Linked DNA regions of Homo sapiens. Changing the gene in region 3 together with the main gene of any one other region gives a genetic interaction. Each region holds a gene or a part of one and is shown on either strand. Other genes may lie near its edges. The genes, in order: STRAP, SNW1 and SMAD2.

Region 1 (11,027 bases), on a different chromosome or scaffold from region 3:
TTTCAAACTGTCCCTCTAAAAAAAGCAAATGAGGCTTCATGTCTCATTAAGGATGGAGAAAAAGAGGTAAATGAAAACCCCATTAATTCTATAGAAAGTAGATTTAAAGTCTTACCAGTTCAACCTCCAATTTCCATATCCTAAAACTCACTGCCTATTTCTCAGGGAATCAATTTTTATTATGACTATAGAGAGCCACCAGGTGGAGCTCTTTTACACACTTTGCCTCTTAATTTCCTACAGTCCACTAATTATTCTGTCACACAGAAAGGTGAGATATAGATCAACAATGATCCATAAATATTTTAATCCATGGAACCTAATGAGAAAATGTATAGATTAGGAGCACTGTTATATTCAAGTAGTACCTTTAAGTATGAACCTTTCTCATTTACTTTCTAATGCCTCATCACCTTATTAGTTCTCAAAGCCCTTTACTAGACCAATGTTCCTATTCTGTCTCCCATCTGTGTCCCACCAGAGAATAGAAAAGTTGTAAGAGTACAAAGAACACAAGGTTTTGGAAAGAGAAAGGCTAGGCAGATCTGGTATTCACTGTGACTTCAGATCTTGGGCAAATAATTCAGTTCTCTCAATCTTGAAAAAGAATAAAATATGAAACCAAAAACATTCTAAAACTTTGAAAACTAGCATTAAATAAAAGTAACAGAAAAGAATATCTTATTTATAAATCACTTGTATTCAAGTAATAAAAACTGAACCATAAGCAATTAAAATAGATTCTACATGGTCCATCACCAAGGTTCCATTTGTGCAACCCAGATGCATCAATGTTCCCCAAGAAACAAAACGTAAAATTGTCTTTTGTTCTTTGGGTGTAATCTAGCAAGCTTCGTTCTTTGGTAAAGCAGGGCAGCTAGAAACAGACAAGAACAAGAAGAGACAGCTTATAGATAAAAATATATATTTATAAAAACTAAACATATTTTTGACCTAAAAGCAAAAACTATTTGGAAAGGCTAAAAGTAGATACTGAGAACCACATGTAACTATGTGAAATACCTGGTCCATCAGATAAATATACATTAACTTCAAATTAATCCCCATGCCTTTCCCTTTCCCTTACTAAGGACTGTTATCATGAAAATGAAAGCAAAACTCAAACTCCAAAACAGAATAAATAAAAAGCTGATAAAAATAACTATCCAATTCAGATTCCTAAAGGTATCCCTGTAATATGCTATACTGATTTTTCCCCCACACACTGTTCTTTACGGAGTCTTAGGAATTCCTAAGTTGGCAAAAAGGAAGACGGGCCAAGTAGATGGGGTTATACACCCACAACATAGTTCAGAAAGAACGGATCTCCTTGCATGTGTTTAGCATATGACTTTGACATAAGATTCCCCCCTCCCTCCCAGCCAATAAAGCCTAAAACTCACTGTACCATAATACATAACATCAGCATAATGATGAACTTTAGTTAAAAGGATAAATTTCTGCATACTTTGTTTACAGATCTATAAAAGCATCTGACCCAAATGGTTAAAACTCCTTTACTTTTTCACTTGTAAGCACCAAGCTTAAGTTAGCTGAAAAATTTACTTTCAACATATATATGTAACATATATATATATATAAATGAGGTGTTAATTACTGGGACTTAACATATGATAAAGGTAACCACATCACTGTAAGGGGACAACTCACCTAATTCTTCTCCACTATTATAATCATACTTATAAAGTTTAAAATCTTCACCGCCTGCAACAAGAAATTCTTTCTCAGGATGAAGAGATGCAGAATTGATGGTTGCAGGAGCTTCAAAGGATTTAATTGGGTCCAAACTGAAAAAAAATTTAAGTAGTATTTACAAATCTTGAATATGGTATAAATAACGAGTTACATTTGAACTGTTCTTAAATTCTGAAACCCAAGGAACAATTAAATACTCATTTACTCAAACATAAACACTGATGTAAAAAAAGCTGTTAGCAAAAAAAAAAAAAAAAAAATCAAATGGATACTATGCCCAAGTGGAGCTCATCTCAGCAATACAAAGACATCTTGATGGAGGGATATCCAGTTTATGCAGTGGATGTCTTCCCGGAAATGAGTGTGTTGGCTAATTAAAACAGTATGAATAATACACTGGGATTTTTGCTCTTAAATAAACTTCACCTGTATTGTTTCATTTTTCTACAACCACATATTATCTTTGTAAACAGAAAAAGTTTTCACAGTAGGTAATTAACATAAAGGATTATTTATATATTATTATTAATTGCTGAAGGTTTAAGCTCCTCAGCAAGATAAACTTTCTATGTCATAAAATATAAACTGCTGAAAACAGTTTCTACTATAAGGCAGTAAAAGACTAACAAAATTTGGGGCTATAGTTATATAATAAAAATCAATGCATAATAACAGCTTCATCTGAAATTCAATTACAGTTTGGACATTAGCTTTTTCAGTTTAACCCTAAAAATCATGAAAGGCCTCCAATACAAAACATTATAGTATCCCAGCTCCTAAATACTTCCCATCATCATATACTTTAAAGCATGTTAATTAAAGTTAGTCATGACTTATGCAGGATCACTACATAGCAACTTGCTGGCTCAAATGCTAGAATATTCAATGGTCCAGAAAATTTCTGCCACCAACATGGGATTTGCCTAACTGCAGGAGTGAGTGAAGAGCATTAATAAACCAATTGATGGCTCCAGGCCATAGTATTCTACTACTATCAGTTTACTGTATGTGTATAAACTCCTTGACATTGCTTAATTGCTCTCCTCCAATTTTACCGCCTTTTCTTTCTCCCAGTTAGCCCTTTAGACACAAGGTTAAGACACTGGTCAAATATCAAAGTGTAATGTGGTATAATCCTTATGGAAATCAATTAAGTGTCATGTATAACTAAGAACTTTAAACTCATTTCTAGCCTTTGAACTGATAATTCTACTTACAGGATCCTATCTACTGTAAAGAAACACTCAGAGATGTGCTAGAACATTCACCGTGGTGCTAAAACAGGGAAACTAACCCATAATTTAGTACAACCTATGATGCAAATACAGTGTATCAAGTAAAAATGTTTTCAAAGAAGTTTTAAATGGCTAACAATATTTTTAAACAAATCAAAATGGTATTCATTATGGTCCTAGTAATTAAAAAAAAAAACACAAATACTGTACACCCACATATATAACATAGAAAAATGGACTAGCAGAAAATATAACTACCATTATCACTCTTGCACCTATGGGTATAATATTGTGGGTACATTTTTTTCAATTATGTTATATATTCCAGTCTTTCTCCAAGAGTATTTACTACATTTAAAGTCGCAAAATTCAAATCTGTTTAAAAAATTCATTAAGTCTGCAAATACTCAGGAACAGAAATAAGATTATTCCTTCTCTAAAACTTTAAGGTGAAAATAAATAGTAGAATCAAGATCACACTGTTTTTTTGTTTTTTGTTTTTTTTGAGACAGAGTCTCACTCTGTTACCCAGGCTGGAATGCAGTGGTGTGACCACAGCTCAAAACAACCTCCACCTCCTGGGATTAAGCAATTCTCCTGCCTCAGCCTCCCAAGTAGCTGGGATTACAGGTACTCACCACCACACCCAGCTAATTTTTCTTCTCTTTGTATTTTTATTTTAGAGACGGGGTTTCACCATGTTGGCCAGGCTGGTCTCAATCCCCTAACCTCAAGTGGTCCGCCCACCTCAGCCTCCCAAGGTGCTAGGATTACAGACGTGAGCCACCACGCCCAGCCCACACTGGTTTTATATAGTAAAAAACATTAATGACAGCACCATTTCAGTAGTTTTTGCTTTTTTTTTTTTTTTTTTTTCAGAGGAGGTTTTGCTTTGTCATCCAGACTGGAGTGCAGTGTCAAGATCACAGCAAAATGCAGCCTCAACCTCCCAGGCTCCAGCAATAGAATACTCACCTCAGCCTCCCAAGCAGCTGGACTACAGGCGTGTGCCACCACACCCAGCTAATTTTATTTTTTGTAGAGATGGGGGTCTCACTGTGTTGCCCAGGCTGATCTCAAGCCATCCTCCCACCTCAGCTTCCCAAGGTACTGCGATTATAGGCATAAGCCACCACTCCTGGCCTCTTTACTTTTAAAAAAAGTAAATACCTTCCCATTTTTAAGTAGCCAAAATGTCTTTTGTTACCTAAAAAAGAAAATGAAAGTATTTCTTGGACATACCTTACTGCACTATGAAAAGCAATAGATCGTCCATAAGTTATAACCAAAATCTCTCCCTCAGGAATATATTCCATACTACTAACAGACATATTAAAATTTAGAGATTTCACTTCTGTCATAGTAGCATGATCCCAAAGTCTGCAAAATAAAGATAAAAATATGATGTTTACTCATGTAAGAAAAAAGTTTATAAATTCTAATTACATCTGCAGATTAGCCAACGAAAGAACAATCACAATTACAGAAAAACAACATTCATTCCAAGTCACAAATTACAGATGATTAAAAAAAATTCTGGGTTTCTATATACAATGTCAAATTATGCATGATAGCTTGTAAGTAAAATCAACTTTAATACCTACATACACTTCCCAATTTGGCAAAACTACATTATTAAGACAAGTTCTAATCTAGTCAATTTCAGCATTGCTATAAATAGTGGTTCTTACACTCTGTTTTTGTGAATCTAGTAATAGCTACACATCTTTCCAAAGAAATATACATCAGGTGTCAGCACACAAGATTTTGTATAGAATTTCAGAGGCTTCATGGTCCCTCCCTTTAACCATTCTGCCCACAGACCCAGGTTAAAAACACCTGCTTATAAGGTATCAGCAATTTAATTTTCTTCTGAATTTTGCTGTCTGTATACACAAGGTGAGCATCCCTTAATTGAAAATACTTGGGACCAGAAAAAAGTTGGATTTCAAACTTTTTCGGATTTTGGAATATTTGCATTAGACACTTACCAACTGAGAATTCCTAACCTGAAAATAGGAAATTCAAAATGCTCCAATGAGCATTTCCTTTAAGCATCAAGTCGGCACTCAAAGTCTCAGATTTCAGAGCGTTTCAAATTTCAGATTTTCAGGTTAGGGATACTCAACCTGTATTAGTAAATAGATAGCTCCAGATAAATGTGACCTGGGTGCAACTTAAATTTTAATGTTCAGAACATTTTTCACACATAATATTAAATGTATTTAAAATATAAGCTCTAAGGTAAAATATTTTGCAAATTTTAAGTTTGTTTTTCTTTTGAGACAGTCTAGCTCTGTCGCCCAGGCTAGAGTGCAATGGCACGATCTCGACTCACCGCAACCTCTGCCTCGCAGGTTCAAGTGATTCTCCTGCCTCGGCCTCCCGAGTAGCTGGGATTATAGGTGTGTGCCACCGCGCTTGGCTAAGTTTTGTAATTTTCATAGAGACAGTATTTCGCCATGTCGGCCAGGCTGGTCTAGTACTCCTGACCTCTAATGATCCACCCGGCTCGCCTCCCAAAGTGCTGAGATTATAGGCGTGAGCCACCATGCCCGGCCTTAAATTGTAAATTATTAAAGAAAAATTACTTACCGAACAGTTTTGTCATCAGCAGAAAGAATCTGTTTATCCTCACTGCACCACAGAGCTTTTTTTATACCAGAAGTATGACCACTAATTTCCTTAGGTTCTTGAGATAAAACAATTTAAAGTACATTTGTTAATATATGATTTTTTAAACTGAACAATATCGGAACAATTATATATTTTTAAAAACACACATTTTAAATTAGACTGCAACTTTTCAAAGCCCAGCCCAATTCAAACTTGATGTTTATATAGAATACAGTTAGTTTTTCTATATTGGAACATAAATTTATCTGCATGACAGGGACCCAAGGAACTACCATGCTTGCTATATGTAGCTGAGTGAATGCACCACTCACTCCCTCTAGGCTAAATTTCTGCACAACTGATAATATTCAAAAGCATTATTGTATAATAAATAAAAAGTATTTTATATTTATTATATGTATAATAAATATAAAAGCATTATTGTATAATTGTATAAGTATAATAAATATAAAAGCATTATTGTATAATATACAATATTTATTTGTACAATAATACAAATATTATTGTATAATATAAAAGCATTATTGTATAATTGTATAAGTATAATAAATATAAAAGCATTATTGTATAATAAATAAAAAGTATATATTTATTATATGTATAATAAAAAGAATTTTATATATAATAAAAAGTATATATTTATTATATGTATAATAAATAAAAAGTATTTTATATATAATAAAAAGTATTTATTATATTATTAATAAAATAATTAACGTGGCATAATTTAATAAGAACACGGACTCAGGAACAAAACAGTTGAATCTGATTGCAGTACTATGGCTAACTCTGGGACGTTTATCCAAGCAGCTATTGATAGTAAATAATGAGAAATAAGGGTTGGAAGGAAAAAAGGGAAATAGAAAGTGGGACAGCAATTCCCAAGAATGTTTCTACACTGTGAGGAAAACATAAAAAAAAAGGAAGGGAGCTTAAATCTGTAGGAGATTATCCTTTCGAAGAACTTCAAAAAACCCTCACTGCTGTCTCTAGGGGCAAAAGCAGACACTGGAGGCAATGCCATTCAACACTATTTTCACCTTTGGGCATGTTACTTAACTTTTTAACTTTATTTCCTCATCTGTAAAATGAGATAACAATGGTTACAAATGCGAATAGGGCTTAACAGATACCCGATACACAGTAAAACCTCATTTTATTTTCTGCTGCCAGCACAGCGAAAGAGCAACTTTCATAAAACAGCTTTGGGAAAGGTAAAGAGCATGAAAAATGTCAACCCAATCCCTGAACTACCTTGCTTTGACCCAATCCCTGAACTACCTTGCTTTGTTGAATGGGTTCATAGAAGAAGTGAGGTCAGAGTCCTTTGCTATGTTTTGGCATAGATTTATCAAAAAAGAAAGGAGAAAAAAACTTCTACATGCAATGGAGAATAAAAAAATCTGCAAATGCGCTTTGTTTCCTCACCTTAAAAATGTTTTCATAACAAATTACTGTAACATTAAAATGTAAAATATTTTAAAAAGTTCTCAGAAATGGAAGGTATCTCAAGAGAATAACCGCTTAATTTCCAATGTGGTTCTGACTCTCTTATTACTCTTTAAAATTTTATAGATTTATGACTACATAAATGTCCACATAATAAAATCTGAAAGATACCAAATATATAATAAAACAAAATTATGTTTGTCATGTTTTGGTAGCTAAGTATATATATGGTGAGGGAAATTATTAAAATATTATAAAATAAACATGTAGACTGGGGAAGACACCTATAACTTCTGTAAAATGAGAGAATGCATAAAGAATTTCACCACCAAAATGTTAAAAACATATATACCATAAAACCACCTTAACAAAATTTAAAAGCAAATGATAAATTAGAATTCAATAAAGAACCTTTAAAAACCAGTAAGAAAAACATGAATAACACAACAGATAAATGGACAAAAGGTAGACAGGCAATTATTCCATAAAAAAGGGAATATATTAAAATGGTATTCAATAGCATTTTAATCTCATGAATATTCACATTAATACAACAGAATTATTTTCTTAAATTGACAAAGAGAAAGTTAGTTATCAGTGCTCACTAGAACATGTTGGGTATAGATACATACATATATACCCATACTTTGTTGGAAGACACTTTGGTAGTATCTATCAATGGCTTCCAACAATTCATTTTTTTTTTTTCTTTTTGAGAAGGAGTTTTGCTCTTGTCCCCCAGGCTGGTATGCAATCTCGGCTCACTGCAACCTCTACCTCCCGGGTTCAAGCGATTCTCCTGCCTCACCCTCCTGAGTACCTGGGAATTACAGGCGCCTGCCACCATGCCCAGCTAATTTTTTTGTACTTTTAGTAGAGATGGGGTTTCACCATGTTGGCCAGGCTGGTATTGAACTCCTGACCTCAGGTGATCCACTCACCTTGGCCTCCCAAAGCACTGGGATTACAGGCGTGAGCCACTGCGCCCGGCCACCTTCCAACAATTCCACTCCTCTTTGTCCCACCAATTCTACTTTTGCTTAGTTATCTTAAGGAAATCATTGTGAAAATATTTGCAACTGTAAGGATGTTTAGCATAATACTGCTTTTCATATTTAAAATCTGTAAGTAGCCCAAACGGGCCAAAACAGGAAACTAGTTAATTCACTTATGATATAACCACAGGATGGAAAACCAGAAAGTCATTACAAACAGTTCATAGACTATTTAGTGAAATGAAAAAACTGTAACTGCAGATTTTTTAAAATTCTTTCGAATAGCTAATATATTTACATGGTTCAAAAATCTAAGCAATATGTGCACACAACTGAGAATTCTCACCATCACCAACTTCTATAAATAACCAATCTTTCTTACCAAAAAATAGTAACACTGTTCTGCACTGTTTTAAAACTTAATGATAAAAATTTGCCATAATAAATTTTCAGTTTGGAAGAAGGTTATACAATAGCAACATAGCAAATAAACTTATTTTTTAAAAACTGTGCAGAAAAAAAGACTGAAAGTTTATAAACCAAAAACTGATGAATTACGTTTTAATTTTCTTCTTTGTTGACTATTTTTTTTTTTTTGAAACTGAGTTTCACTCTTATTGCCCAGGCTGGAGTGCAGTGGCGCAATCTCGGCTCACTGCAACCTCCACCTCCCGGGTTCAAGCGATTCTCCTGCCTCAGCCTCCCAAGTAGCTGGGATTACAAGCGCCTGCCACCATGCCTGGCTAATTTTTCTATTTTTAATAGAGACGGGGTTTTGCCATGTTGGCCAGGCTGGTCTCGAACTCCTGACCTCAAGTGATCCACCCGCCTCAGTCTCCCAAAGTGCTAGGATTACAGGTATGAGCCACCGTGCCCGGCCATGACTATCTTTATTTTCCAAATTTGAGTACTGAGCATGAAATTCTTTAATCAGTTATTTAAATTAAAAGAAAATAAAACTAGAAGCTGATGTTTAAATTATGCTTACCTGCTTCAGGTTTGTTCAAGTCATATATGCGTAACAGTTTATCCTGTCCCCCGGTTAACAAATAATTACTATCCTGAAAACACAAAGTAAAATGTGAATAGATTAACCATTTTAATAGTTATTTCTCTTTCAAATTTCAACACCAAATAAAATCAAAATCTAGCTCACAGACATCACAAAGAGATGCCAAGACATAACCAATTACTTCTGAGAAGATACTGTGGAACAGCTGACCTCTCATAACTGCCAAGACTTGTAAGCTTTCCACTTCAAAAGCGTTACACTACACTACATATACATGAACTCTCCCATTCTCCCCTGATCCTACTCCTCTCCCTTGTGAGAGGCCCTTTTCTGATTATCTCAAATTTATCTTCTCCCTTCTATTAGTAGTTGGGGAAGGCTACTTGAGCTTTTCAGATGTTTTTTACATGTTGAAGGACTGGTACTCGTTCCACAGTATCTTAAAAGCTTGACAGGATTAACTATGAAACAAATTCATAGAGCTTAATACACAATCAAATCAAATATGAACCAAGAAATAACAAATATTCCACACAAAACATATCAATCAAATATACACACCAATCAAGTATAAAAGCATTATCACACTATGTACCAGCAACTTAACTCGCTAAAATAAATTCCATTTTCTGATACCTGCGTGAAATCCACAGTCTTGACAATGTGTTTATGAGCCAGGGTCATCAATTCATCTCCTGAGACAGCATCCCACACTTTGCTAAAAGTAAAAAAGAGAAAATTAGTAGGATAAATATTACCCAATATATTAAAAGGATAAATACAATTATAATATTGATGAGTACCAAATAAGTTAGATATGTGAAATGTTACATAAATGTATTATAAATCTCCTTTATCTCTAATATCCCTCACAGACTTCATTTGATAAAATATTTAAATAAGCTTAAGGGAAAAGAAATTTCTCTGTAAAAACTTTATAACCAATCTAATTTTCTTTGACAGTGGAAAAGATATGAACAATTTAAGCAAGTAAGATTCATGAACCAACCCATCCTCCTTACTTTTATTTTAGCTGACAGCCATAATATCCCTTTAGCAAGCCTGTCATACATTTTAACCAATTTTTAGTTTCACCATGCCAATTTTTTCTCTATTCTCCACTCAGATGCACAATAAAAAATAAAAATAAATAAAAAAACCAGAAATCCTTAAAAATGTTACAAGGGAATGAAAAGCCTTGGTACAGGCTAAGTAAAATTTTAAATTAAGATAGTGGAGAGACAATGTCCACTTCATCTCTTCTTCAAAGCTGACTTAAAATTTCAAACTCTAGTACAGTTAACTTCCCCCAAACTATCAGCCTTTGATTATATAATGCTAACACTGACTATTTTAATCTTTACATTGTTTTTTCTGTCCCACCCCACCCCAAAATACAAGTTGGTTATAGGTATACATACATTTATATGTGTATGTATATTCTGGGCGGGTAATAGTTGAGCAATACTTTACAAAATTACTCTAAAAGGGTTCCCCCAAATAAAAAAGCTTAAGGAAGGGGGAAAAAAAAGTTGATTTTAGATCAGAACAGGTCAGTGAAAAATAAACAAGAAAACTTTGCAGACAGGGAAAAGAATTGCTAAGAGTGAAAAAGCTATGTTCCATAGAGATTTCCATTTTAATGCAACTGCTATTTATTTTCAGGAACACAGTGGGCAATAAAATGGTAGAGGGAAAAAAATCAGAGAAAAGCAAGATGTATCTTTTCTTTTGCTTACCCCAATACATAATAAAATATATTAAATATATATCATTCTATACTTAGTGCTAAGGCACAAATGGGAGACAAAAAATACCCCACAGTAGGTTCTTGCCATAGTAGAGCTTTAGCTGAGGAGAAAAACATGCATTAAATATCACATTTAAGAAATATAATTAAAAGACATATATATGGCTATAAAAACTCAGAAAAAAGCACCTAGATATTGTCCAGAAAATGTAAGTAACAGAGCTAGCCGTCGG
Region 2 (10,085 bases), on a different chromosome or scaffold from region 3:
TCACATACAAGAATCAAATCAAAATGGATTAAAGACTTAAATGTAAGGCCTGAACTATGAAACTGCTAGATGAAAACACTGGGGACATGCTTCAGGACATTGGTCTGGACAAAGATTTTTTGGGTAAAATCTCAAAAGCACAGACAGCAAAAGCAAATATAGACAAATGGGATTGCGTCAAGCTGAAAAGCTTCTGCACAGCAGTCAACAGACTGAAGAGGCCACCTACAGAATGGAAGAAAATGGTTGCAAAATATCCATTTAAGAAAGAATTAATAACCAGAATGTACAAGAACTCAATCGCAAAGAAACGAGATAATCTGATTTTAAAATGGGCAAATGATCTGAATAGACGGTCTCAAAAGAAGACATACTTATGGCCAACAGGTGTATGAAAAAATGTTCAGCATCACTAATCATCAGGGAAATTCAAATCAAAACCACAGTGAGATATTATGTCACTCCAGTTAAAATGGCTATCATTAAAAAGGCAATAATAGATGCTGGCGAGGATACAGAAGGGGGGGAACACTAGTACATTTTTAGTAAGAATATAAATTAGTACAGCCACTATGGAAAACAGTATGGCAGTTCTTCAAAAAACTGAAAATAGAGCCACTACGTGATCCAGCAATTCACTGCTGGGTATATATCCAAAAGGAAATCAGTATATCAAATCAAAAAGGGATATCTGCACTTCCATGTTTATTGCAGTGCTCTTTACAGTTACCAAGATACGGAATCAAGTTGTGTCCAGTGGGTGAATGGATAAAGAAAATGTGGTCTATATACACAATGGGATATTACTCAGCCATAAAAAAGAATGAAATCATGTAATTTGCAACAATATGGATGGAACTGAAGGTTATTAAGTGAATAAGCCCGGCACAGAAAAACGAATACTGAATCTTCCCACTTGTATGTGGGAGCTAAAAAAGTTGGTCTCAAGGAAGCAGAGAGTAGAATGGTGGTTACCAGTGGTTGGGAAGGATGTTGGGGACAGGGAATGAAGAGAGATTGGTTGATGGTACAGAAATACAGTTAGAAAGAGTAAGTTCTAATGTTCCTAGTACAGTGGGGTGAATAGTTAGTGATAATTTATTGTATATTGCAAAATAGCTAGAAGAGAAGAATAGTTAATGATAATTTATTGTATATTGCAAAATAGCTAGAAGATTTAGAATGTTCCCAACACAAACAAATGTTTGAGGTGATGGATATCCTAATTACCCTGATTTGATTATTACACATTTTGTTCATGTATCAAATATATATACCCCATAAATATGTATAATGATTATATATCAAAAATAAATTTTAAAAGCAATTAACATTGATAAATTTGCTTTATCACATATTTGCCCATCTTTCTGTCCATCTGTCTGTCCGATTTACTGCATTGCATTTCAAAGTAAGTTGAAGACAGCAATACATTTTACCCTTAAATATTTTAGCCGCATGCTTGATTCTAGAATTCACATTCAAAAATTAAACTAATATCATTTATTAGACTTAAATTAATTGCAAGTAAGGTTTAAAAGGCTGAGTGTGACTACAAAGAAGTTTGGAATTTTCTAAGGTTAAAAAATATTCTCTTGTTCAGAATATTGGCTGGGTGCGGCAGATCACTTGAGGTCAGGAGTTTGAGACTAGCTTGGTGAAACTCCATCTCTACTAAAAATAAAAAATTAGCCCGGCATGGTGGTGCACACCTGTAATCCCAGCTACTTGGGAGGCTGAGGCAGGAGAATCGCTTGAACCCGGGAGGCAGAGGTTGCGGTGAGCTGAGATCGCGCCACTGCATTCCAGCCTGGGCAGCAAGAGCGAAACTCCGTCTCAAAACAAACAAAATACTAATGGGGCTGAGTGCAGTGGCTCACACCTGTGACTCCAGCACTTTGGGAGGCCTAGGTGGGAAGATCACTAGAGCCTGGAGTTTGAGACCAGCCTCGACAACATAAGTGGGACCCCATCTTTACAAAAAATTTAAAAATTAGCCAGGCATGGTGGCACACATCTGTGGTCCCAGGTACTCGGGAGGATGAGGCAGGAGGATCACTTGAATCCAGGAGGTAGTGGCTGCAGTGAACCATGTTCATGCTACTACACTCCAGCCTGGGTGACAGAGTGAGATGCTGTCTCTTTTTAAAAAATTATATATATACACACGTGTACACGTATGCACACATATAATACATATTACAGTGAAGTACTTTTCAACTGTTCACACAGAGGATGGGGAGGCACGTGAGAGGGATGAAATCCGGCATGACAGGCGAAAAGAGAGACAGCATGACCGGAATCTTTCCAGGGCAGCTCCTGATAAGAGGTAGGTGTTATTTAAGATGTGTACCAATCATGGTGGCCGGGCGCAGTGGTTCACCCCTGTAATCCCAGCACTTTGGGAGGCCAATGCGGGCGGATCACGAGGTCAGGAGATCGAGACCATCCTGGCTAACACGATGAAACCCTGTGTCTACTAAAAGTACAAAAAATTAGCCGGGCATGGTCGTGGCAGGCGCCTGTAGTCCCAGCTACTTGGCAGGCTGAGGCAGGAGAATGGCGTGAACCCGGGAGGTGGAGCTTGCAGTGAGCCGAGATCACGCCACTGCATTCCAGCCTGGGCGACAGAGCGAGACTCCATCTCACAAAAAAAAAAAAAAAAAAAAAAGATATGTACCAATCATGAAGAGTGGCCTTTTTGTACCTTTTAGAGCAGAGTTTTAGTCCACTAAGATCAGTTTTGCTTCTCTCCCTTTCTTCTTTAGTTTGATAACTTAATAAATTAGCACTTAATTTTCTTGTACTTAACTACTTTGTCTTAGCTCTAGTTGACTGTCTTTGGAATTAATCTTCCATCACTTAAGTCAGAATTGAGAATGATGGGAATATAGAAAACGGAATCGAGATCAGATTTTTGAAAAGGATGTAGTAGTAAATTTGGACTGTTATAGTCCGTTCTTTTTCTACCTCAAATGGTGAGATAAATGGATTATGTGCCTCTTTAGACAGGAAATAAGCTTTCATGCTTTTATTGAGATCATTTTATATGCATAGTACTGCATCTAGTACAATTGAGGAGAAGAGCAGTTTTGAAAGAAGTAGAAAATCAGCTCATTTTTAGGAGTAGTTTAACTTACAGTTCAGAAAGACAGAGCTATCCATAAAATAATTTGAGAAAATTTGCAAAGCACTCTTAGTAAGTATAAACGTATAGAACAAACTAAATATATATATGAGGGCATAGAGTAAAGTAGGAATTGGGGAAGTTTATGGCTCACCAAAGGCTGAGGACTAAAAGTTCTGAAAAGTAGAGGGAACGCTGCAATACTAAGGTGGAATTCTGAGTGAGGGTTAAATGCAAATATAGAATATTTTCTTCCCAAATGAACAGTTTTCTGTGCTCTGATCATCCCATGAGCCTAATACATTTTTCAAGTCATATTTTAAACACAAAAAAGAGGCCGGGCACAGTGGCTGACACCTGTAATCCCAGCACTTTGGCAGGCCAAAGCACGCGAATCACTTGAGGTCAGGAGTTCAAGACCAGCCTGGCCAACATGGTGAAACCCCATCTCTACTAAAAATGCAAAAATTAGCTGGGTGTGGTGGCACATGCCGGTAGTCCCAGCTACTCGAGAGGCCGAAGTGGGAGAATCACTTGAACCCTGGAGGCGGAGGTTTCAGGGAGCCAAGATCGTGCCACTGCATTCCAGCCTGGGCGACAGAGTGAGACTCCGTGTCATAAAAAATAAAAAATAAAAAAATAAAAATAAATAAGCATGAAAAAGATTCCTGCTGGTATTAATTGGCATATTTCATCTCCCTGGATAAATGATGTCATGGAGAAGCAAAGACTCTTACTCTTGAGAGTTGAGGGTAAAGTACATGTAGAAGGAGGAGCAAAGTGTGAAAGTGTTTAATTAATGACAGTCTTGGTTAGTAATTCCTAAGTTGTAAAAGTTACAATGGCTCTGTGGATAAATTGGGCCCTCAAAACGAGTAAAGTGGCTATCAGAATTGACAACATAGAAAAGCTGTGAAATTGTAACTGGATGAAAATCAAACAGCCTATAGAAATCATTTTGTGACCTGAGTTTTTAGTAAAACAAGTAATGACAGTTACCATGGTTTCATTGGGATGTAGGTTGCATATATAATGCAACAGCCAGGAAACCAAATTAATCTGAATGTCAAAAATCATACTAATTCAGTCATTGACATGTTTTCCTCAAAATTCTAGTGGGATAAAATTACTAAATGTGGTTAGATAAAAGAGCTGTTTCTAGCTTATTTAAAATGTTTCGTGTGCTACATCTAAATTGTATCCACTTCCCCAACCCCCAAACCATCATATAATGATAGTAAATATAGACCATAGCAATTTTATATCTCAGCATGGTTGTAAGGTGATTGCTTATATTAAAGAATTCCATGTCAACGAATCTGTTAGATGTTCTTTTGAGCTAACAGGACGTCCTAATTGTAAAACTCTCCCTCTAATCTGAAATGCTTTATAAGGGCTGCCAGCTTGATTATGTATCATCAAGGAATATATGTTCACAAGATGTGAATGTGACATATTCACATCCTTTGTTTCTGAGATTGGTTGTATTTCTATTGAACATATTCAGCTTGTCTATAAAGAGTTTTCAGTTAGTGATGTCGTATTTCAAAATAGGTCGAAACTTCAGAGAAATGAAAATCGGGATATCAGTGAAGTTATTGCTCTCGGTGTTCCTAATCCTCGGACTTCCAATGAAGTTCAGTATGACCAAAGGCTCTTCAACCAATCCAAGGTACAAGTTTAGGAACAGCATATTGTGTGTGTTGATGTGAATACCTATCCTCAGGGAAACGAAAATTAACATACTTTACATTTGGATGTAAATGCCAGCATGATGACAAAAAAATTGGAAGTTGTATGTTGAAACTTGAGACAAGATGAAACAGTTCTGATTTTAACTTCTTATAGTGGGCTGAGATTTGAGACACTAGGAGAAGAAAGAAATTAGGTGATTAAAAACTTGGTGTTGTGGTATGTCAACCTTTTGTTTCTAAAATAGAACCAGGGAGGCCAGGCATGGTGGCTTTTGCCTGTAATCCCAACACATTTGGAGGCCGAAGCGGGCAGATCACCTGAGGTCAGGAGTTCACAACCAGCCTGGCCAACATGGTGAAACCCCATCTCTACTAAAAATACGAAAACTAGCCAGGTGTGGTGGTGCACGCCTGTAATCCCCACTACTTGGGAGGCTGAGGCACGAGAATTGCTTGGTGAGCCAAGATTGTGCCACTGCACTCTAGCCTGGGTGACTGAGACTCTATCTCAAAAAAATAAAAGAGTCAGTGTCCTACAAAAGTGCCTCTTGGGTTTTTTTGTTGTTGATTTTTGGATTTTTCTTTTAATGCTATAGAAATATATCAATTTGGGATTCTTTTAAAAATGAAGCTGTAAAACGGGATTAAAGTACTAGGCTGGCTGTCAGGAAATCTGATTTCTAGTACCAATTGCCATTAGCTAACTAGGACACTTTAAGCCTGGGAAAACACACGCGGGCGCATGCGCACACACAAGAATACAGAAGTGTAAGTTCTACTGGAAAGTAGAGTGGGAAACTTAATTATGACTTGGAGGTTTTAAGTAAGCTCTTCTAAGTGATAATTTATTAGATGCATTTTATATTCTTGGCATTGTTCTAAGTCTTGTTATTATCTCAATTCTTACAAAAATCCTATGAAATAATACTATTATCTCTTATGTTATAGATGAGGAAATTGAAACACAGGTTTAGCTTGTGACTGATGGAATTAAGATTCAAACTGGGTGTCTTGATTTCAAAGTTTTTTTTGTTTGTTTTTGTTTTCTGATATGGAGTCCCACTCTGTCGCCCAGGCTGGAGTGCAGTGGTGCCATCTCGGCTCACTGCAACCTCCACCTCCCAGGTTCAAGGGATTCTCCTGCCTCAGCCTCCTGAGTAGCTGGGATTATCACAGGGCATGTGCCACCATGCCAGGCTAATTTTTGTATCCTTAGTAGAGACAGGGTTTCATCACGTTGGGTCAAGCGGGTCTTGAACTCCTGACCTCGTGATCCTCCTGCCTTGGCCTCCCAAAGTGCTGGGATTACAGGCGTGAGCCACTGTGCCCAGCCAATTTCAAAGCTTTCTTAACCACTATACAATGGCAACTTACCAGCTGAGCAAAGGGATCTAGGGGTGAAATTTCACGTAAGTAAATATTTTCAAGATAATCACCTGTTAGAAGCTTAAGCTTAAAACATTTAAAAATTGTGATGAAAATATTTCTGGCTGGGCACTGTGGCTCACGCCTGTAATCCTAACACTTTGTGAGACCTAGGCAGGCAGATTGCTTGAACCCAGTTTAAGACCGGCCTGGGCAATATGGCAAAACCCTGTCTACAAAAAATTAGCTGGACATGGTGGCACACACCTGTACTCCCAGCTACTTGGGAGGCTGAGGTGGGAGGAACACCTGAGCACAGGGAGGTCACAGCTCCAGTGAGCTATGTAGCACTTTGTGAGACCAAGGCAGGCGATCACCTGAGGTCAGGGGTTCAGGACCAGCCTGGCCAACATGGTGAAACTCTGTCTCTACTAAAAATACAAAAATTAGCTGGGTGTGGTGGCACATGCCTGTAATCCCAGCTACCTGGGAGGCGGAGGCAGGAGGATCACTGGAACTGGGAGGCGGTGGCTGCAGTGAGCCAAGATCACACCACTGCACTCCAGCCTGGGTGACAGAGTGAGACTCTGTCTGAAAAAAAAAAAAAAAAGAATCCAAAGTTGTTATGAAGTTCATGTGCTACCAGTTTTTTAATGAAGACTTTTTAATTTGCAGTTCAGATTGTTGAAAATGTGAGCTGTACATTAGCAAGGGTTTACTGTAAACATGTTATGATTCAGCTTTTGATAAACAATGTTTACACTTTTATTTAATGTCATCCATTTTTCCACAGGGTATGGACAGTGGATTTGCAGGTGGAGAAGATGAAATTTATAATGTTTATGATCAAGCCTGGAGAGGTGGTAAAGATATGGCCCAGAGTATTTATAGGCCCAGTAAAAATCTGGACAAGGACATGTATGGTGATGACCTAGAAGCCAGAATAAAGACCAACAGGTGCCAAGCCATACAACTCAATTTCAGTGTTTACACTGGTGAAAGCAAAGTAGTTCATAGTTTTTTCTCCTTTTCCTTAGATTTGTTCCCGACAAGGAGTTTTCTGGTTCAGACCGTAGACAGAGAGGCCGAGAAGGACCAGTGCAGTTTGAGGAAGATCCTTTTGGTTTGGACAAGTTTTTGGAAGAAGCCAAACAGCATGGTGGCTCTAAAAGACCCTCAGATAGCAGCCGCCCCAAGGAACACGAGCATGAAGGCAAGAAGAGGAGGAAGGAATAGGCACAGGTCTCTCCAAAGTGAATGAACTCTTACCCATAACCCTAATGATGCAAGTCATATGGGGGAACACTTTGTAAATGGTCAGGATAAAAACCAAATCTGGGTGCCAGATCCCAGCACTACTTTTTATTACTGGAGAAATGGGGGGGATAGAAAATTCTACTTTGAATTATTTAGTTTTTTTTAAAGAGTGGGTTGTGTTTGTGCTTCTCCCACCTTTCAGCATTTATAGAACATGCTGCCCCACATACAAAGTCAAGACCACTTACTTTTATGTGACACTAGTAGTTTGGGGTTAATGTTTTGTGTAAGAACAGCTGCATATGAGTAAAGTTACCCCAACCACAGTGAGGAGGAAGATGTTCACATACTGGAACTGTCCTGCCAAATAAATTTTGCCCCTATTGTGCTCTGTTTTAATTTGGAGTGGGCAAAGTAACCTCTTGCTTGGTGCAACTATTTGTTTCAAATAAAAACATTTAGACAAAATTCTCAGTTATGTTAACTTTATTAATAGGCTGCAGTCTCAAAAATCTTTCTTTTCATCATCAGATGTTTGCGGAAGTTTTGGCCTTCTAGTGTGAACCTGGACCTTAAAAAAATAAGCACTGTAAGGGAGGAAAGGCAATGTCTGCAAAAACATTCAAACTGAAAATCACTTTATTAGGGAGTCAGTATGAATAATGAATAACCCAGGCAGTTTTTATTTGTCCCTTGTTCTTTCGTTTTCTCCTCAAATTCCTTTTACCATCTTTGTTGGTATTATGACTCCCTAACCCTCAATTAAAAATTGTAAATCAGACCAGGGGCAGTGGCTCAGGCCTGTAATGCCAGCATTTTGGCAAGCTGAGGCAAGAGGATTGCTTGAGGCCAGGAGTTCAACACCACCCTGCAACATAGCAAGGCCCTGTCTCATTAAAACTAAAATTTAAAATAAAATAGTAAATCAGTTTGGCCCAGGATCACATGGTGGGTAAGCCAAGATTTCAGCCCCAGCTTGCCTGACCTGAAAAGCAGACTGCTGGCCAGGCGCTGTGGCTCACGCCTGTAATCCCAGCACTTTGGGAGGCCGAGGTGGGCGGATTGCCTGAGGTCAGGAGTTTGAGACCAGCCTGACCAACATGATGAAACCCAATCTCTACTAAAAATACAAAAAAAATTAGCAGTGCGTGGTGGCGCATGCCTGTAATCCCAGCTACTCGGGAGGTTGAGGCAGGAGAATCGCTTGAACCCAGGAGGCGGAGGTTGCAGTGATCCAAGATTGCACCATTGCACTCTAGCCTGGGCAACAAGAGCAAGACTCTCAAAAAGAAAAAAGAAAAGTAGACTGTTATGTCCACTGTGTTACATATCTTGCTACCCATTAAAGGGTCATCTTGTACTTTCCTGGACCTTTTAAAACTGGGCACTCTACCACCCCCCATTTTTTTTTTTTTTTTTTTTTTGAGATGGAGTTTTGCTCTTGTTGCCCAGGCTGGAGTGCAATGGCGCGATTTTAGTTCACTGCAACCTCTGTCTCTTGGGTTCTCCTGCCTCAGTCTCCTGAGTAGCTGGGACTACAGGCATGTGCCACCACGCCCATCTAATTTTTTTTGTATTTTTAGTAGAGATGGGGTTTCTCCATGTTGGTCAGGCTGGTCTCAAACTCCTGACCTCTGGTGATCCCCCCCGCCTCGGCCTCCCAAAGTGCTGGGATTATAGGCATGAACCACTGCGCCTGGCCTACCACCGCACCATTCTTTTTTTGTTGTTGTTTTGTTTGTTTGTTTGTTTGAGATGGAGTCTCGCTATCGCCCAGGCTGGAGTGCAGTGGCGCAATCTCGGCTCACTGCAGGCTCCACCCCCTGGGGTTCACGCCATTCTCCTGCCTCAGCCTCCCGAGTAGCTGGGACTACAGGCGCCCGCCACCTTGCCAGGCTAATTTTTTGTATTTTTAGTAGAGACGGGGTTTCACCGTGTTAGCCAGGATGGTCTCGATCTCCTGACCTTGTGATCCGCCCGCCTCGGCCTCCCAAAGTGCTGGGATTACAGGCGTGAGCCACCGTGCCCAGCCTCCACCCCACCATTCTTAACAAGCATTAAGGCAGCTTCAGTTACAAATCTCTCCAAGTCCCCATCATTCCACATTTATGATCTATTTAATTGATACATAATTAAATAGTACCTACATGTATATCATGTATGTATCTGGCATAGAAATAAATTTACCTTTACTCCATCTATAATATGATTTTCCTGTTGTAGTGCATTCCGAAGTCCTTCTTCTGAAGAAAACTGAACCCAACCCAAACCTCTGTGAAAGCCAGTCTCCTTGTCCTAAAAATTCAAAATATAGGAAAAGATTAATCATGAACTTCAGAAAGTTTCCATGAGTTCCAAATCAAACTACCAACTTTTTCATCTGCCAAAAATCGGACTTTTTAATTTAATTTTATTTTATTTTTAGGCAGGGTCTTGCTCTGTCACCCAGGCTGGGGTGCAGTGGTATGAACGCAACTCACTGCAGCCTCAACTTCCTGGGTTCAAGCAATCCTCCCACCTCAGCCTCTTCAGTAGCTGGGATCACAGGTACATACCACCATGTCTGCCTCATTTTTTATATTTTTTGCAGAGATGGGGTCTTCCCATCTTACCCAGGCCGGTCTCAAACTCCTGGGCTCAAG
Region 3 (11,027 bases):
ATTGAGATTGCATCAAATATATAAATTTGGTAGAGTTAATACCTCTATGATGGTATCTTCCTGTGTAGGGACGTATGTTTTTCTTTTTTGCTCAGTGCACTTTTGTGTTCTTTAGTTATGTTTAAAATGTTTCTTTGTATAGTTTGACACAGTTTTAATTACATTTATCTAGATGCTGCTTATACAACTCTCACTATCTAAGGGGGATTGGTTCTAGGATTTCCCACTCATACCAGAATTAGTGGATGCTCAAGTTCTGATAAAAAATGGCATTGTAAGCCTGGGCACGTTGACTTACTTCTGTAATCCCAGCATTTTGGGAGGCTGAGGTGAGAGGATCACTTGAGTCCAGGACTCAAGAGACTTTGTCTCTACAAAAAGTGTTAAAATTAGCCAATCGTGGTGACACACGCCTATAGTCCCAGCTACTCAGGAGGCTGAGGCTGGAGAACTACTTGAGGCTGGGAGGTCAAGGCCGCAGTAAGCCTTATTTTAAAAATAAAATGGCATTGTATTTGCATATAACCTATGCACATTTTCTCATACTTTAAATCGGCTGTTCCCAACCGTTTTGGCACCAGGAGACAGAGTCATGAAAGGCAAGTTTTCCACTGACCGTGGTGGTGCGGCAATGGTTTTGGGATAAAGACGTTCCACCTCAGTCATCAGGCATTAGTTAGATTCTCTTAAGGAGTGCCCAGCCTAAAGCCCTCGCATGTGCAGTTCACAATAGGGTTCTTGCTCCTATGAGAATCTAATGCCACTGCTGATCTTCCAGGAGGCAGAGCTCAGGTGGTAATGGTCTCTCCCCTGCTGCTCACCTTCTGCTGTGTGTCCTGGTTCCTAACAGGCCGTGGACCGGTATCAGTCTGTGGCCTCTGAGACTCCTGCTTTAAGTCATCTCTATATTATGCATAATATGTAATACATTGTAAATGCTGTGTAAATAGTTGTTATACCATATTGTTTTTAAATTTTGTATTTTTCAATTGTTGTATTTTTTAGTTTTAAAAATTTACTTATTTTTTCTACTTTTTGATCCACGGTTGGTTGAATCCAAGGATGTGGAACCCTTGGATACAGAGGGCTCTATGTTTTATTATAAATTGGCTTATTTTAAAAAATATTTTTTATTATGTAAACAGGCAATGATTTTACTAGCTAGAAGCAAATTTAATGTTTTAAAATAAACCTTCCAATTTTGTTAGGCATGATAATGATGGAACTGAGGCTTAAATATACCCTATGGCAGCAGTTGGAAAGTGGCCGAATTAGGGTTGGGGTCTAGATCTGTCTGCCTCTAGATTGATTGCAAGTTCTTAACAATTACTGTTTATTCTTCTCTGATTCCTTTCAAGGATTAAATAAAGTACAATGTAAACTTCATGCTCTATTTTAGATTCTGGTTCTCATGTGAGTCCCAGAATAACTTGAGTGAAATGTTCTGATACAGAGCAGAATAGCCTCTTGTGCTACACTTTTGTTAATTATTTTCAAAGAATAGTCTCCTGTATACCATTTCTTTAATAGACTCAGAAGTCTGTAGAATTGAGGTGATTCTGTTGTGATTTAAACTACATCATGCTATATGTTTCCAATAGATATTTGAAAATATCTTTTAAATAAACCATTAATGTCATGGTTTTTAAATCAGTATATCTTTGGAAAAAAGGGAAAGGTCTAAGCCTTAATTTACCTGGCTTTTTCTGGCTTTTATAGTCTGGTAAATTTTGCAGCCTGAAAAAGCAAGAGAATCTATAAAATACTTGAATGAGATGCTGGAAAATTTCAGAACAGGTTTTGTTTTGAACTGTCGGGTCACTGTAGCCCCCAAAGCAGGGCATGATGTGTTCCTGCAGCCTGATAGCTATGTGACAGCACCTGTAGTACTAAAGCCAAGGATGCCAGGTGGTTCTGTTGCCTGGCCACAGGAAGCCAGCGCTTCTCACCATTGCCCTTTGAACTGTTGATCCAGTTAAGCTCACTAACAATGTGTAAATATGAAATTTAATCAATTGCTTGATTCATTTTCAAAAGATGTTTTGAAATACTCCTTTATCCGCATTGAAGTTTTGATGATTTTGTAATATGTAAGAAATGGACTTTTCAGAAAAGTACAACTTAGTACTTGAGACATTGGCTGTCAAAGTTCCATTCCAAAACTTCCTTTTAAGCTCTCTTTCCCTTCTCTCACTGACCAGAAGTTACTATGAAATGAAATAAAGGTAGGGAAAAAGGGAGAATTATCTCTGAGCTGCCCATATTCTGGAGAGAAATGTGGGAGAAAATTTTTAAGGTGGTATACTAAATTAGAATGACTTCAAAGTCTATTTCTTTATTTATTCTAGAGATGAGAACAAAATAATTTTCAGTAAAACTTAAAAATATCATGACCAGATAACCTGAAAATCTTAACTGTGGATGCATGTCTATTTTTATTGGGATTTTTTTCTATATTAAAAATCAGTTGACATCTGTTTTTAGATAATTTTTTAAAAAACTGGATTATAAAATGAAGCACTTAGTAAAGCTGATGGCAGAGGTTTTAGATCTTTTGAATACAGGAAAGTGGTAAGGGCATTATAGGTATGATTCATTGAGCTAGAGGGCGTTGGTGTTCACATTTTAAAAACATAATCATGACTTATCTGGAGTCACATGTTCCATTTTATTGGCTTCCTTCATATAGAAAATATAGTAACCAGCACTACATGCCTGTGAAAAAGTGAAGCAATTGTATATTTTCTGGGTGAAGGAAGTATTCTGTACATTCTCCATGTTTTACATCATGGTATTTTGAATAACCATGCTTCCATGTTCACATCAATTTTTTGTTTTTCAATTTATGCACAGCACTTGCTCTGAAATTTGGGGACTGAGTACACCAAATACGATAGATCAGTGGGATACAACAGGCCTTTACAGCTTCTCTGAACAAACCAGGTGAATATTCTGCCCTCTGTCGAATCTTAGAGATCTTGTGGGAGGGGGGTATATTTTGAAAGACCTATATGGGGTTGCTTAGTATAATTTTGCCTAGGATGTTTCCTTAATGTAAAATAAGGCATAGCATTTAAAATATCTGCTTGCCAGTATAAAAAATATATTAAATGTTTCAGCTGATGTTTTAATCAATGCAATTCTAGTTTGAATCTTCTTTAAATTACTGTATCCCCTAAAGAATAATAATTTTGATAACTATATATTTATTTTAGCTTGAGATCAGATTATAATCTGTTGTTGGCCTAATTTTTAAGTAGATACATGATGAGTTTTGCTAAATTTCTTGTTATCAGAATCTCATCTTTATACTAATAAATACATACTTAATGAACCCCTTATATCACAATTAACAGTAGGTTAACTCATTTTTATGTTACTTTTTTTAATCACTTCATTTTCTTTTTTGCGTATATGGTATTTGTTCATTTCATCTCATCATATTCATCACCATCCACATTTATTTGTGAACTACATAAATATACCTCAGTTCTCAAAACAGTCACAACTGGGTAAAGAGTTGCAGTAGTCTGAGGAAGTTACTATCACATCATTGTTGGTATTTATCATTCTTCACACTAGTTCCTTTTCTGACTCTTCAGTCACCTCCAGAATTAATATCCTTAGAAGCATCTCTAAAATGAGTTTGATTTACTAAACATAGAAGTTGACAAAGTTTTTCAAGTATAACTGCATAAACTCTCTTTTTTAAAAAATCAGTTTTTCCCAAGTTGTTAGCCTTTCATTGGCATTTGAGTCATTTATGTGACATATTTATAAGAAACATCTGCTAGTGCTGCTGCATACTTTTATCAGATCCATTAAATAGTACATTTTTGTTCTTGATTCTCACTAAAACTAACTAAATGGCTGTCATTCTTTTCTTTATGCTTTTATTGTACTAATTTAGCCCATTTGACTGCACTTTTTTTTTTTTTTTTTTAAAGTTCCCTCCTTTCTTTTCCCCTTGCTTCCCAACAGGTCTCTTGATGGTCGTCTCCAGGTATCCCATCGAAAAGGATTGCCACATGTTATATATTGCCGATTATGGCGCTGGCCTGATCTTCACAGTCATCATGAACTCAAGGCAATTGAAAACTGCGAATATGCTTTTAATCTTAAAAAGGATGAAGTATGTGTAAACCCTTACCACTATCAGAGAGTTGAGACACCAGGTAGGAATATTGCAAGTTTTTTTCTTGGTTTTGAATTAAATGCCTGAACTTCAGTATATTTAAGTACTCTTGTGACCCAGGAAAATTTTAGTGTAAATTCTAATAAATTACCTTAAATTGTGCATATTATTTGGTGGTAATTAAAATTTTTTTATTTTTAAAAATTTTTAATGAGAAAACATATCTGTTTCTTGGAATAGCATATGATTTGGCATGAAAGTGCATATCCAGGAAATCCTGTAGATTGGCAGTCTGCTCAGCGCTATGCTGATGTGCTTCTACATGTCCCTGCTGCAGTAACATTTTCAAGCATTTTGCACTTGGAGTGCTTTTAGAAGTACTTTAATGACATCATTTGTATGTACACCGTTTAGTAAAGCTTGTAACAAGACTTTTCATTTAGTTAGCTGTCTACCTGAAACTATTAAAAAATATAGCAGTAGCTGCGTTTTTGGAAAATTTCCTATATCTGATTTTACAGATAAAGACAATGTTAAGTTTTCCAATGGGGATTTATGAACTTTTATGGTAATATAATATTACCAGGATCACATTGTTCCCAAAAGTTTGAGATAAATTAGAACTTGGAAATTTGGATAATAGACTACCTAAGTTAGAGCCATAATCAGATTTGTCATTTTCTCAGTAACTAGTATATATCGAGTAGGTGGACCCTAGCTTTAAAAATTAAGCTACAACTTCTCTTCTTGTTGAAAACTTTAAAAAAGGTTCCCCCACTCCCCTTTGCTCTTTGCCATTAACTTGGATTTCTTGAACTTTTTCAGTTTTGCCTCCAGTATTAGTGCCCCGACACACCGAGATCCTAACAGAACTTCCGCCTCTGGATGACTATACTCACTCCATTCCAGAAAACACTAACTTCCCAGCAGGAATTGAGCCACAGAGTAATTATATTCCAGGTATTTTTGCCTTCTGAATCTCCTAAAACTTGGATAGATACAAATTTTGTTCATAAGCATTCAAGTTTTAGTAAATTGTGGTTTCACTTTTTTAAAAATGCTTTTGAGTTTTTAATAGAAAAATTGGATTCGTTGGGTGATTATTTTGTGAAATGTATAAGCCTAGTACATTAAACAGTTTTGTTTGGAGAAGAGTTTTACTTTATATTTCATTTTCTTTTGCAGTGACTTTAATCAAAGTACTGTGAGAAGCAGAAAAGAAAAGATCTTAGTAAGTTTGTCTTAGTTGTTGAAGCTAAGCGAGATGCAGAATGTAAGCAAAACAAATGGTGTAGGAGAAAAGTACCCCCCAAACACATGTAACTGAATATCCACCCAATGATCACTTTTTCTTAGATAACTTGGTAATATTTAACAGAAATATAACATTTCTATAAGAAATATAATACTTAGTTCTATAGACATAGCAACACTTACATATTATAACACGAACGTCAGAAAACCTCCTTTAATTATGTTTCGTCTGCATCTCAGTAATTTCTGATGAAAATTGAATTCAGCTACATGGTTCTCAAATTTTGTTCTGATGTATTATGTGATCCAGTAATACTCCACGATATGATATCTGGCCTTTTCGTTTTTTATGGTTTCTTTTTTTTTTTTTTGGAGAACAACTAATACTTTGTTACTTTTCTTGTATGTTTTCCTTTTTGTTTGGTTGATTTTTCTCCCTAGCAGAAACAGCATGATGTTAGGATGAGGATTAAGCTGTAGTGTCTCGATTTCTTTCTTCCTTTTGTAATATTCTTTTATTCCACTCTTATTTTATACACTAAAAATATGTAAGGAACTTAAGAGCATTTACAAAATTCTTAAAATACAGTTTTAGTACATTTAAACAATTATTTCTTTCATGTATCCATCATGGAAATAATGCTTATTCATTGAAGATAATTTTTTAAATGTAAGGAAGAAAAAAAAGAAAAGATAACTAAGAAAGATAAGTTTTTTTTTTAAATAGCTGGTTTTACAAATGGGAAGTGGTTTTTGATTGTTTTAATGTATATTTCTTTGATTACTGTTTTATTCCAGAAGAGGATTTAAAGCTGCTTTATGGGTTGCTAGGAAATACAAACTTACTGAAGTTAAGAGAGGGAGAGGGTGGGATGTAGTATGATAACACTAGGAGGAGGGAAAACCCGGGACTATGAAACAGGGCAATTGCTAGGTAGAAAAGGGAGTGGAGTTGTGTGAACGTTGGTGTGGGGAAGGGGAGGCATTTTAAGTCGTTAGTGTGGGAATTACTGTTATTCAGCCAGCAATACTAACCTTAGGTATAAACATGCAGTCTTAGGGACAACACGCATATCCAGTAATTATTTGGAAGGCTATTCACCAGAATGTTTAGTGGCTTTCACTTGTGAAGATGTTTGGGCTCATTTTTCCTTTCTTTTTTATTCCTTTAATTATTGAGATTTGAGTATTTTATAAAGTAGAAAATCAGAAGTGGATTATACCCATTTGCTTTTCTGGACAGTGGGGCTTTATCCGGTTTCAAGCAACAGCAAAACCAAAGGGTTCACATTTTATTCCACTTAAAAGAAATTTTAACATTTTCTCAAAAATGCTAATAGCTTTATTATTTATTACAATAATGGAAAAAATAAACACAGTAAGATAACGTATTTTAAGGTTCAGCATTTCTTTCTGATTAGATCTTTGAAATACAGGTTAAACTCAAAAAGCTTAGCGCCGTTTAACTTTATTAGCTTTAACTTTTAAAATATGCATAATATGTACCCTTATTTTTATGTTCTTTGAGTATATGAAGATAATTTATTCTTAGAATTTTTGTTTTAAAAATTTGGGGGTACTGACACTTAAATGAAAAGTTTGATACTTAAAGTTTGTGGTTAGTTTATTGAATAGATATTGTAAAAGGTTATTGAAGGAGACCCTTAACCTGTATCTTCTCTTCCTCTTTTTTTTTTTTTTTTTTTTTTTTTGAGACGGTGTTTTGCTCTTGTTGCCCAGGCTGGAGTACAATGGTGTGATCTCGGCTCACCGCAGCCTCCACCTCCTGGGTTCAAATGATTCTCCTGCCTCAGCCTCCCTAGTAACTGGAATTATAGGGATGCACCACCATGCCCGGCTAATTTTGTGTTTTTAGTAGAGATGGGGTTTCTCCATGTTTGTCAGGCTGGTCTCGAACTCCCCACCTCAGGTGATCTGCCTGCCTCGGCCTCCCAAAGTGCTGGGATTACAGGCATAAGCCACCGCGCCTGGCCTCGTTCTTTTGATAATTTTAAAATTGTTTGGATATGTGTCTTTGTTATCTTGAATCGCTCAAAACTGTTCAGTGTAAATGTAAAACTGATGAAAGTCTTCTGAACTTATTTTTCCTCCCTGGAATTACAGTTGATTAAATTGTATACATGTTTTTATTTTACATGCAGTTTATTCAGCTATTCAGATACCTTTCTGAACATAAGTGTTTTATTCAGACAACATGTTGGAAATAATATATTAGAATCCTAATGGTTATTTTCAGGGAGCATTTTACCTCTTTATACAGTAGTCTATATTTGAATTGAATTTTCTGCTTCAAACACTTAGACTTTACCAGTTAGGAATCCTTGGAGAAACACACTTTTTAGATAGAATTCAGCCTGGACCAATCCGGAACCATACTCTACCATATTTTACCCTATAGAACTTAGTGTAAGTTGTAAGCCTGTATTATTTAATACTTTTATAATCCAAAATCTTGTGTGTTTTTTAATTTTCTAAGTACTCATAAAATAACGATGTTCATTAGATTAAACAACAACAACAAAAAATTGTAGTTACTGATGGTTTTGCAGCCTACTGATTCAGATCTGAGGCATTTTTAAAGTTACGTTTTTGGCTCTTGCCCCAGAATATGTACATATAGGAATGAGCAAGATACGTACATAATGTGTATGTCCAGAGAGTAGGATTTTATTAAAAGTGGATGTTAAGGATTCACTGCAAAATTTGGACAAGATCCTGAATTATACACCCTCAGTATGCAATATTACTTTTTATAATATTATATAACATTATTATTTGTTATTTGGAGTGATTCATTGGTTATCTCTGGTAGCTGAGAGAAAAGGTAGTGAGATTATGTTGCAGCTGTGCTTGATTTGTTTTAAACTTTTGTAGAAACGCCACCTCCTGGATATATCAGTGAAGATGGAGAAACAAGTGACCAACAGTTGAATCAAAGTATGGACACAGGTAAAAAAAATGTCTTTGAAAATTCCTCAGTTATTAGATATACATTTCTTGTATTGTTTGAAATTCACAAAAGATGTTACTCTTAAATTTAGAGAAGTTGAGACGCATACCAAAAAAGATGATCTTCTATCTTGATTTAACATATCTGAACTACCAAAGAGGTCCATGTTGTCACTGAAAAATTATAACGTATGCTACTCTGCAGAATAATTGTTATTTTTTATTAGAGTAAATGAAAATTTGAAAACATGCACATACTTTTATTTCTTTTTAAGTATTTGCTTCTGTTGAAAATTTTAGTAACCCTATGACTAAGTATCTCTCTGTGATAAAAAACCATAATTACTCAAATAACAGATTTTCAGAGGAATTTGGGGGTGAAGGATGGGGATCAGCTTTTCACTGCTTTTTTAACCTAATAGTGAGTTTTGAATTATAGTAGATTAATTTCTTATGCTTAGCTATCAACTCCAAAAAGTGATGAAGAAAAAAATTAAAGCTTTAAATCACGTCTTACGTAATAAAATGTATAACTCAGCAGAACTAATAAACTACCAGTGAAATCACTTTGATGTCATTGTAATTGTCCAGTTTGATTCATTTTACCTGTCTGTATCTTAACTGTTGGACACCTTAATATCACAACCTGACAAATTATACCATCAGTCTTTCTCCACATCTTAACACTAATGCATTCTTGGTTATGATAATCTAAATTATTTTTAAGTGGATTAACATTGGTGGGGGAGGGAGGGGTTACAATAATTCTCTTGTTTAAATCCGTTTTTTTGGACTCCCAGGTAAAGAAGTTTCTGCTGTAGCTAATCATACATTTGGGTGTTTAGGAGTACCAGATAACTAAGAAAGGTAGATAATCTAATGAACGTTGGAAATAACGTGTTATACATCTTAATGCAAATAATATTTGACTTTCCACATATGTTTTACTAAAATTAGATGACACTCTTCTTGAAGCAATAATATTCTTTTTTGCCTGTGATGGACAGCTGTTACTGTGACATTTAAAAGTGAATGATGGGAAAAGATACTGAACGTCATAAACCACAGTGAGATACTACCTCACACCTACTAGATGCTATAATCAAAAAAGGACAATAACAAATGTTGGTGAGGATGTGGAGAAATTGGAGTCCTCATATATCGCTAGTAGGAATGTTAAATGGTTCAACACTTTGGAAAAGTTTCCTGTTCCTCAAAAAGTTAAATACAGAGTTAACATATTGTGGCCAGCTATGTATCCAAGTGAACTGAAAACATGTCTACTCAAAAACTTGTACATGACCATTTATGCAGGCATTATTCTTAATATTCAAAGTTAGAAACAACTCAGATGTCCATCAAATGATGAATGGATGAATAAAATGAGGTATGTTTCTGCAATGGAATTATTCAACCATGTAAAGGAATGACAGTATAGCATGACGTGTGGCAACATGGATGGACCTTGAAAGCAGTATGTTAAGTGAAATAAGCCAGAAAAAAAAGGCTGCAGGGATTCTAATTTAGTGCACAGACACCTATTCAGCAATATAACTGAAACACAGGAGGAGCAATAATACAAGTATTCGTTATGTATGATAAATGAATCAAAGTACAAAAGTGGAGAATAAGCTGAATCAGCCAGCTAAAATAATTGCAGTGTTGGGGCTAACTTTGAACCCAACCTAATATTTCTGTTTCAGTGGAGCAGTGTTACTGGCTTTCTGAATGACAGGTTTAAAAATTACTGTATGGCAATGGGAATATGTGATTCATGAGATGCCAACAGTTAGTTTGGCTGCCAGCCTCTTACCCAATATCAGTTTCTCTCTTGGGGCCATGGCAAGAAACAATTCTGACTGATGCAGGGCTCCAATTTAGAACAAAGTTGGCCACCTCTCTAACTCTGGTTCATACCTTCCAGAAGGAAGGACATAATTAAATTCATCTTTCATAACCTGCTGTTAAAAATAATGAATTGAAATTTTTTAAAAGGGCAACCAGAGGATAAATTAGGCATAATAAGTAAGTGTACGAACAAGCACTTGTTACTTTTTTCTTTTTTTTTTTGATTTAGATTTTGCTGGTCAAGACTTTATTCTTCCTTTATAGTGGATATTAGAGATCAGGCTGGACATCGTAAGAAATTTATAAGTTCGATTAACCTTTGTAGTATTGTATAATCAGTCCCTTTTCAAGTCATGATTTTTATGAACATATTTGTTCAAACAGGTATATAGAGAAATAGAATATAATAGATCATAAGATGTGGATTTCATAACTCACAATTCAGTTTTGTATCTTCTACATACACTGTGCTTGGTCCAAGATACACAAAGAGACTTAAAGGGTTTTTTAATCTGCCTGTGTCCCAGAAGATAAAATGAGGTGCTAACCTCCAATACCTCAGAATGTGGCCTTGTTTGGGAGTAGCATCTTTGTAAATGTAGTTGTTTAAGATGAAGTCATACTGAAGTACGATGGGCCCTAATTCTATATGACTGGTGTCTTTATAAGATAGGGAGGAATGTGCTATATGAAGATGGAGGCAGGTAACTGGAGTTAGCACCTGCAAGCTGAGCAATTCCTAGGATTGTTGGGAAACCCAAAAGCTTAAGAGAAAGGCATGGAACAGATTCTCCCCTTGAGCCTTTGAGAGAGCATGGCT

What was found.
Region 1: of SMAD2 (region 3) and STRAP, changing one suppresses a phenotype caused by changing the other (phenotypic suppression), as found in Homo sapiens cells (one study listed by BioGRID).
Region 2: of SMAD2 (region 3) and SNW1, changing one enhances a phenotype caused by changing the other (phenotypic enhancement), as found in Homo sapiens cells (one study listed by BioGRID).

The regions. Positions count from the first base shown.
Region 1 is NC_000012.12:15,888,663-15,899,689, reverse strand, and holds part of STRAP (serine-threonine kinase receptor-associated protein), read right to left. Parts: intron 9,763-11,027; coding exon 9,681-9,762; intron 9,094-9,680; coding exon 9,021-9,093; intron 5,644-9,020; coding exon 5,547-5,643; intron 4,332-5,546; coding exon 4,194-4,331; intron 1,809-4,193; coding exon 1,672-1,808; intron 1-1,671. UniProt on the Homo sapiens protein: The SMN complex catalyzes the assembly of small nuclear ribonucleoproteins (snRNPs), the building blocks of the spliceosome, and thereby plays an important role in the splicing of cellular pre-mRNAs.
Region 2 is NC_000014.9:77,715,425-77,725,509, reverse strand, and holds the end of SNW1 (SNW domain-containing protein 1), read left to right. Parts: intron 1-2,232; coding exon 2,233-2,329; intron 2,330-4,681; coding exon 4,682-4,799; intron 4,800-6,979; coding exon 6,980-7,143; coding exon of another isoform or gene 7,144-7,223; coding exon 7,224-7,422; coding exon of another isoform or gene 7,423-7,447; 3' UTR 7,448-7,911; downstream 7,912-10,085. Other genes in the region: SLIRP (SRA stem-loop-interacting RNA-binding protein, mitochondrial isoform 1 precursor), read right to left, coding at 7,949-8,014, 9,631-9,738. UniProt on the Homo sapiens protein: Involved in pre-mRNA splicing as component of the spliceosome. As a component of the minor spliceosome, involved in the splicing of U12-type introns in pre-mRNAs.
Region 3 is NC_000018.10:47,862,391-47,873,417, reverse strand, and holds part of SMAD2 (mothers against decapentaplegic homolog 2), read left to right. Parts: intron 1-2,853; coding exon 2,854-2,943; intron 2,944-3,981; coding exon 3,982-4,175; intron 4,176-4,960; coding exon 4,961-5,095; intron 5,096-8,284; coding exon 8,285-8,359; intron 8,360-9,316; coding exon of another isoform or gene 9,317-9,378; exon of another isoform or gene 9,379-11,027. UniProt on the Homo sapiens protein: Receptor-regulated SMAD (R-SMAD) that is an intracellular signal transducer and transcriptional modulator activated by TGF-beta (transforming growth factor) and activin type 1 receptor kinases.